3 separate regions of the Homo sapiens genome follow, and all the other regions are linked to region 1. The links come from fine-mapping of genetic effects on gene expression. A gene starts in region 1. Each other region holds a variant in brackets. All regions are shown on one strand. Distances are between the middles of the regions.

What was found. PIP is the estimated chance that this variant, and not a neighbour inherited with it, causes the effect.
Region 2: its variant is fine-mapped to the expression of KLRK1-AS1 in whole blood (INTERVAL, PIP above 0.99).
Region 3: its variant is fine-mapped to the expression of KLRK1-AS1 in blood mononuclear cells (TOPMed, PIP above 0.99).

What each region holds. Positions count from the first base shown.
Region 1 is chr12:10,362,600-10,365,369 of GRCh38, forward strand. It overlaps KLRK1-AS1 (KLRK1 antisense RNA 1), which reads left to right and starts at 1,170. Exons shown (of 4, transcript NR_120430.1): 1 at 1,170-1,434. RefSeq lists enhancers at 1,641-1,690, 2,151-2,220.
Region 2 is chr12:10,577,547-10,580,316 of GRCh38, forward strand. No RefSeq gene overlaps it. Among named protein-coding and RNA genes, the nearest start is that of LINC02446, 26 kb to the left of the region's middle. The variant G/GCT (reference allele first, on the strand shown) is at 1,335.
Region 3 is chr12:10,327,804-10,330,573 of GRCh38, forward strand. KLRD1 (killer cell lectin like receptor D1) reads left to right here. Exons shown (of 6, transcript NM_002262.5): 6 at 1-1,805. Among named protein-coding and RNA genes, the nearest start is that of LINC02617, 9.1 kb to the right of the region's middle. The variant A/T (reference allele first, on the strand shown) is at 1,784.

The DNA of each region.
Region 1 (2,770 bases):
AAATAAATCTATGTTCAAGTGCTATTTTTTTATGGCACTGGGGAACAAGCATTTCAAACAATTTGGTGGCAGTCTGTATGGGGATACATTCTCCTCCAGGGGTGGTCTCCAGTCCTCTCTCATGAGGGAGTGCACTCCCCTACCTCATTGAAGGGGCCCTCAGGAATGACAAATTGAGACAAATAAACCCAGACTCTCAGCAACACAGAGAGAAAAAAAAAAAAAAGAAACTGGCCAGCAACCTAGCTTAAAGGATCCTCACATACTGTGGCGACAACTTTGTGCACAGGCCAAGAAAGAAGAAGCTGTGGGAGCCAATAAAGTATTTCCTTGGTGATCGGGACTAAAAAAAAAAAAAAAAAAAAAGCCACAGGACGGTAAAGCATTCCTTAGTTAGGACGTACCAAGGAGAGAGAAACTGCAGGGTCAGTAGATTATTCCTTAGTCGGGATGTCTTGGAGGTTAAAAATAGGTGAGAAATCCCCATAGAAGGGGTGTTGAACCTCAGAAAGAGGTGAGAAATCCCCATGAGGCGGGTTGAACCTCAGAAAGAGGTGAGGAATCCCCATGGGAGGGGGGCGTTGAACCTCACACAAACTCCCAGTAGTAAGAAAAATATTCAGAACCCCCCTTTCCTTTCTTCTTGGGGGAAGAAAGAATAGCCCCACTGCCACCAGTCCCTTCCCTAGGGAAAGGGGAAGGAGGGGGAAAACAGCAGCATAGGTGGCTGGCATGGAACAGGAATTAAAATAAATTACAGAATGTGTAAGCAAAAACTCAGTTGTATATAAGAAAACCCAATTCCCCCCTGAGGAAGAGAAAGAGCCGGAGTCCTTTAAAAATTAACTGCCTGTTTTCTGTGGCTAGTGAGCCTTATCTCTCCCTTTCCCAGGCATTATGAAGACCCTATTTCTCTAGCTGTGCAGCTGCAAGGTCACTAGACAGATAAACTCAAGTCATAAAACATGTTTTTCCTTGAAAAGAAATGATGTCATGTATGTCTCAATTGAATAACTGTCTTTGTTTCTTGCTTCTGTTATACGCTTCCCCCTGCACAAATCTTCCCCCACCCACGAAATGCTTAAAAGGTAACTTGACTCTTTGTTTGGGGCTCAGTCCTTTGGATGTTAATCCAAGTGGACCAGTGCACCTAAATAATAAATATCCTCCTCAATCCCTTGGTCTCTCTGATTCCTTATATATCCCGATACATTTCTGGGGGCTCATCAGGATTGGAGATGACAGATTTACTGTCCCCTTTGCCTGCGATACTAGGTCCCCGGGGCCAGGAGAGACCCGGCATCCAAGGTGTGCCACAGCTGAGCTTCACCCGGATATATAGACCAGCTCTCCCCACGTCCCAGCACCCTGCCTGGCAGCGCAATGGAACCGAGGATGGGGCTGCAGGACGATACCAGCACTTCAGGAACTGTGGTAAGGAGTATAGGCCCAAGGCAGGAAAGCCCGTCCCATAGGGACAAAGGGGAGCTTGATCACCTCCCAGGGACTGACCACTAATCCAACCCAGAGTGGCTGGGGGCAGCAGGAGTGGCCTGCCAATTTGGATGAAGCTTATGTCCCCACTAACAAAGTGAAAGTGGTTCACTGGATCTGGAGACAGGAACTGGGAGTGGTGTGTGTATGTGTGTGAATATGGGAGCCTAACTAGGCTCACCCAGGTCATGAGAGAGGCTCATTCCATCCGATGAGGACTCCTGCAGTAGGAGTGGTGTATGTGTGTGAAAGTGGGAGCCTAACTAGACTCACCCGGGACATGAGAGAGGCTCATTTCGTCCAATGAGGAATCCTGGGGCAAGGAAGGTGTGTGAAAGTGTGTGAAAGCGATGGTCTCGGGAGAGGCCAATGCAGGGAGTGACGTGGGGAGGCACAGATCCCTTAGCACGGGCTGTGTGCTCTGAGGCGAGTGTGGGGGGAAATCAGACCTAGGACATTGCATACAGCTGATAGGACGAGCTTTGCAGCTGTAGCAGGCTGTGACAGGGGAAGACACCTTCCTGGCTAAGCAGTGTCCGAAACTCCTGTAATAGGACCGGGTCTGCTGGACCTGAGAGTGAAAGTGAGAGTGAGAGTGAGAGTGTGCCGCAAGGGAGGAAATGGGAGGGAAAGCGTCAAAACCAACTCCTTTGGAGTGCATGATAAAAATTTTAAAGAAAGGATTTAGAGGTGATTGTGGGATGAAACTGGATGTTCAAAAGTTAAAGACATACTGTGAATTACAATAGCCCTCTTTTAGTGTCAGATGGCTGGCCGAAGGCACTGTAGAGAAATTGGCCGTGTGTTTTAAGGTGGTGACTAGGGTCGGAGGACAGCCAGGGCATTCAGACCTAGTCTTTATATTGACTCATGGCTAAATGTACGCAGCCCTGCCTAGCAGTTTATTGTAGAATGCTCGCAGCTCACGCCGAGATAAACCAACTGTGCTGGCAGCTACGGAGTTAAAGGGAAAGTCACAGAGGCTTCTAGCACCACCGATCCAAAAGTGAAAGTGAAAGTCAGCTGCCCTGGAAGCTATGCAGACCAAAAAAAAAAAAGAGTCTCAGGAAAGAGAAAACCAGTTTTGCAAGAATCACAGGATGGAATAGAGATCCTTCCTACCTATATTCCAATCTATCCCCCCTTACCAAGGCTAATTGCCCCTAAGGAGGTAAGTTCAAACAGATACATGCTCCCACTCTCACCTGAGAAGGAGAAATCGGAGCTCCAGGAAGTTAAAACGAAAGGCTCAAAAAGGTAGGCAGGCCGTCTCAGG
Region 2 (2,770 bases), 210 kb after region 1:
AGAGTCATGGAGGAAACTTAAATGCATGCTGCTAAGTAAAATAAGCCAATCTGAAAATTCTGTATAAGATATGATTCCAACTATATGACATTCTGTAAAAGGCAAAACTATGGAGATGGTTAAAAAAAAAAATCAGTGTTTGCCAGGGCCTCAGAGAGAGGAAGGAGGAGAGGAATAGATGAAGCATAGGAGATTTTTAGGGCAATGAACCTATTCTTTACAGCACTGTAATGGTAGATATATGTCATGCATTTGTCAAAACCCATAGAATGTAAAATACAAAGAGTGAAACTAATATAAACCATGAACTTTACTTAGTAATAACATATCAATATTAGCTCATCAATTATAACAAATACACCACACTAATGCTAGATATTAATAGGAGAAACTGGGAGGAGGGTGAGTGAGTATATGGAAACTCTCTGTACTTTCCACTCAATTTTTCTGTAAAACTAAAACTGCTCAAAATTGTAATCTATTTAAAAAAAAATTCTAATGACATCACTATATACATATCAGGAGGGATAAAATTTAAAAATAACGACAACACCAAATGATGGCCAGTATGCAAAGAAAATGAATCACTCATGGGTATACAAAATGTTACAGCCTCTTTGGAAAACAGTTTGGAAGTGTTTTATAAATCTAAACACGAACTACCATAGGACTCAGTAATTGCATTCTTGGGCATTTATCTCAGATAAATTAAACATGTTATGTTCACACAAAAATGTCTATTCCTGTTCATAGCAGCTTTATTTGCAATAGCAAAAAAACAAAACAAAACAAAAAACCCTGAAAACAACAAAATATTCCTCAATAGGTAAATGTAATCAAACTGTGATACATCCATACCTACTTGGCAATAAAAGGAACAAATTATTGATACCTACAAAAACTTGTATAGATTTTCAGGAAATTACGTTGAGGTCACAGACCGTATGATTTCATTTACTTAACAGTCTTGAAATGATAAAATTATAGAAACAGAGAAGGAGTCAGGAACAAGGAATGGAGAAAAGGAAGCAGGTGTGGCTCTAAAAGGGCAATAATAGGGAGCCTTGTGATAGAATCTCTCTGCATTTGTATCAATGTCAATAACTAAGTTGTGATATTATACCATGATTTTACAAGATGTTACCATTAGAGGTGCTTTGGTTTGAATGCTCCTTCCAAAACTCAGTGTTGGAATTTAATAGCCACTGTGACATTATTGGGAGGTAAGACCTTGAAGAGTTGATTAAAGTCATGAGGACCTCAATCTTAAGAATAGATTAATTCCCTCATGAGAGTGAGATCGTTATCTCAGGAGTGGTTCTGTTGTAAAAAAA[G/GCT]CTCTCTCTCTCTCTCTCTCTCTCTCTCTCTCTCGCTGTCTCTCCATGTAATGCCTTCACCATGGGATGACCCTTGCCAGATGCCAGTGCCATGCTCTTGGACTTCCTTGGTTTATAGATGCATAACTACAATATTTTCCTCTGTCTTCACCCGGCATTCCCCTCTGTGTCTCTGTGTCTTTTCCTATCTCTTAAAAGAACATCCATCATTAGATTAAGGACCCCTTAAGGCCCACCATAATCTAGCATGATCTCATGATCTTTACCTTAATTACATATGCAAATACCCTTTTCCCAAATAAGGTCATAAATAAGGTCATGTTCACATTCTTCAGGGTGAGAACTGGAGCCTACCTTTTGGGGGACACAGTTTAACATGCTATACTACTGAATTAGAAACTCTGGAAGTGAGACTCATCAGGCTGTGTTTTCCAGGTGAATCCGATCTTGATTCATGATAAATGTTTGAGGATATGGATAAGCTAATTACCCTGATTCCTGATTTGATCATTACACAGTGTATACATGTATTGAAACATCACACTGTACCCCATAAATATGTACAATTATTATGTGTCAATAAAAAATAAAATAAAACAAAAAAAAACCTATACAATAGTGTGAAATGCTGTTGGGATGCTGGCCTGTGGCCAAAGCTGGTTCTGGTAGTGTAACCAGGCAAGCCAGTGAAGAGTTCAAGGGTATGTACTGGTCAATATCAGTGGATCTTACTACTAGTTTCCAGTTTCTCAAAATTAGAAACTCTGGAAGTGAGACTCATCAGGCTGTGTTTTCCAGGTGAATCTGATGCTTGGAATAATAGAATGCTAATGCATGGTGGGCTTAATACCTAGGTCATGGGTAGATAGGTGCAGTAAACCACCATGGCACATGTTTACCTATGTAACAAACCTGCACATCCTGCACATGAATCCCAGAACTTAGAAAATAAAAATAATAGAATGTCAGGACTAAATCCTCATCTATCAATAATAACCCTGAATGTAAATGTATTAAGTTCTCCAATTAAAAGATATAGAGTGCTAAATTGATTTTTTAAAGAATGACCTAACTTTATGCTTCCTGCAAGAGAAGTACTTCACCTGTAAGAGAAGCACTTCACCTGTAAGGACACAATAGACTGGAAGTAAAAGGATGAAAATGATATCCCAAGTGGAGACCAAATGAAGACAGGAGCAGCTGTATTTGTATCAGTTAACTAGGCTATAATTGAAAAACTATAAAAAGAGACAAAAATGGTCATTATGTAATTATAAAGAGGTCAATTCAGCAAGAGGATATAACAATTATATAAATACAGCTGGCCCTCTGCATTCACGAGTTCTACATCCACAGACTCAACCAACTACAGAACGAAAATATTTTTAAAAAAATATCCAATCTGTACTGAATATATATAGTTTTTATTATTGTCA
Region 3 (2,770 bases), 35 kb before region 1:
ATAGGGCCTTCAAAATGTTGAAATATTTTTCTCAAATTCTAGGTTGGCAGGAGTTATCATCATAAAATGGGTATTAAATTTTGTGAAAACTTTTTTTCTGAATCTATTGAGATGCACAGGTGACATTTATCCTTCATTCTATTAATGTGGTATATTACATTAATTGATTTTGTATGTTAGGCTATCCTTGCACCCCAGGGATAAATGCCACTTGCTTATGGCATATACTCCTTTTAGTGTACTGTTGAATTAATTTTGCTACTACTTTGTTGAGGATTTTTGCATCTACGTTTACTAGACATATTGGCTTATAGTTTTCTTGTGGTATCTTTGACAAGCTTTGGTGTAATGGTAATGCTGGCCACATAAAATTAGTTTGAAAGTATTTATTCTTTTTAAATTTTTATATAATAGCTTGGGAAAGATGGCCATTAATTTCTCCTTAAATATTTGGTGGCTTCACCAGAAGAGCCATCTTGTCCTGGGAATTTTTTTGTTGTAAGTTTCTTGATTACTGATTCAATCTTCATTCTAGTTATAGATACGCTCATATTTTCTATTTCTTCATAATTCAGTCTTGGTAGGTCCTTGTCTTTGTGAATTTTTTCATTTCTTCTAGGTTATCCAATTTGTTGGCCTATAATTGTTCTTAGTTGTCTCTTACCATCTTTTATATTTCTGTGGCATCAGTTGCAATGTCTTATTTCTGATTTCATTTATTTAAGGCCTCTCTTCTTTTTCTTAGTCTAGCTAAAGGTTTGTCAAGTTATTTATATTTTCCAAAAACTAACTCTTAGTTTTGTTTACTTTTTATATATCCTTTCCATTCACTATTTTATTTCTGAACTAATCTTTATTATTTTCTTTATTCTTCTAAATTTGAACTTTGTTTGTTCTTTTCTACATTTCTAGTTGCTTGGGATATGTATTAGTCCATTTTCACACTGTTGATAAAGACTTAACTGAGAGACTGGGTAATTTGTAAAGAAAAAGAGGTTTAATGGACTCACAGTTCCACGTGGCTGGGGAGGCCTCACTATCATGGCAGAAGGTAAAACACATGTCTCACATGGCGGCAGACAAGAGAGAATGAAAGCCAAGCCAAAGGGGGTTTCCCCTTATAAAACCATCTGATTTCATAAGACTGATTCACTACCATGAGAACAGTATGGGGGAAACCACCCCCATGATTCAATTATCTCCCACTGGGTCCCTCCACCAACATGGGGGAATTATGGGAGCTACAATTCAAGATGAGATTTGGGTGGGGACACAGCCAAACCATATCAAGGTATAAAGTGCATTGTTTGAGACCTTTCTTTTTTCTTAATGCAGATATTCATCACTATAAACTTTTCTTTTAGCCCTACTTTTACTACATCCCATAAGTTTTGTTAGACTTTATTTTTGTTTTCATTTATTCTAATGTGTTTTTAAATTTCCCTTTTGATTTATTCTTTGCAGATTGGTTGTTCAAAAATGTATTGTTAAATTATCACATATTTATTAGTTTTCCTTTTGCAACTGATTTCTAGTTTCATTCCCTTGATGCTGTAAAAGATACTTGATATGACTTCAATTTTCTTAATTTTCTTAAGACTTCTTTTATGACCTAACATATGATCTATCCTGCAGAATGATCCATGTGCACTTGAGAAGAATGTATACTCTGCTGCTGTTGGATGGAATGTTCTGCACATGTCTGTAGGTGACTTGACTTGCAGTGTTGATCAGGTCATCTGGGTCTTTGTTGCCTTTATGTTTGGTTGTTCTATCCATTATT[A/T]AAAGTGAGCACTGAAATCTCCTACTGTTATTGTATTGCTATCTATTTCTCCCTTAAGTTCAGTCAATGTTTGCTTTATACCTTTAGATACTCTGATGTTGGGTGCATATATATTTAAAATTATTGTATCCTCCAATGTGAATTGACGCCTTTATCATTATGTAATATCCTTCTTTTTTTCTTGTGACAATTTTTGACTTAAAGTCTATTTTTTATAATATCAGTAAAGGCATTTTTTGTTGTCTTTTAGTTATTATTTGGCGAAGGATTTTTGCAGTCTTCTTCAACCTTCATGCTAGTCCAACTGGCTTTCTTTTTTTCTTGGTAGATTCCAGGCATCTAGAATATCCCAGGTCCTGTCAGTGCTCTGAGATAAACAGGAATAAAGCTAGCTCCTCAGGCAATCTCCAGAAAATATGGATTATCAGTTGTTTAGTTCAACTTTTTCCCCCAAGGAGAAGCTGAGAGTTAAAGGTTTTGGTCCACTCACTCCATCTTGATCCAAGGAGTGGTTGAAACTGCCAGCTCACCCCACCATCTATGTTCTTGCTGGTCCCACGCAGCCAGGCTATGCTTGGTTCTATCAGTACACTGAGACAGGCTAGAGAGAAGCCAGTCTTAGGAGTAGCCCCTGGAAAAATTGGGGAATTGGACATGCCATCCATCATTTATTAACCAAGAGCAAAGCTGGGAGCAGGGGAGTTTCTCCCTGGTTTTTTGGCACTGTGCTGGGGGCAGGAATTAGGGAAGGAGTGTACCTTAGATTTCCCTAAGGCTTCAACATGAGTAGTTTCACCAACAGCATTGGAGCATCTCAACTAGTTTCTTAATTTCCCACAAAGAAAATTTGTCTATGAATTTTTAGTTGAATTGGTGCATTTGTAGAGAGAAAAGAGACCAGGGCTTCCCACTCTGTCATCTTGCTAATTTTACTCCACCATTTATTTTATAATTTAAATATATAAAAATAAGATACATATTTATAAT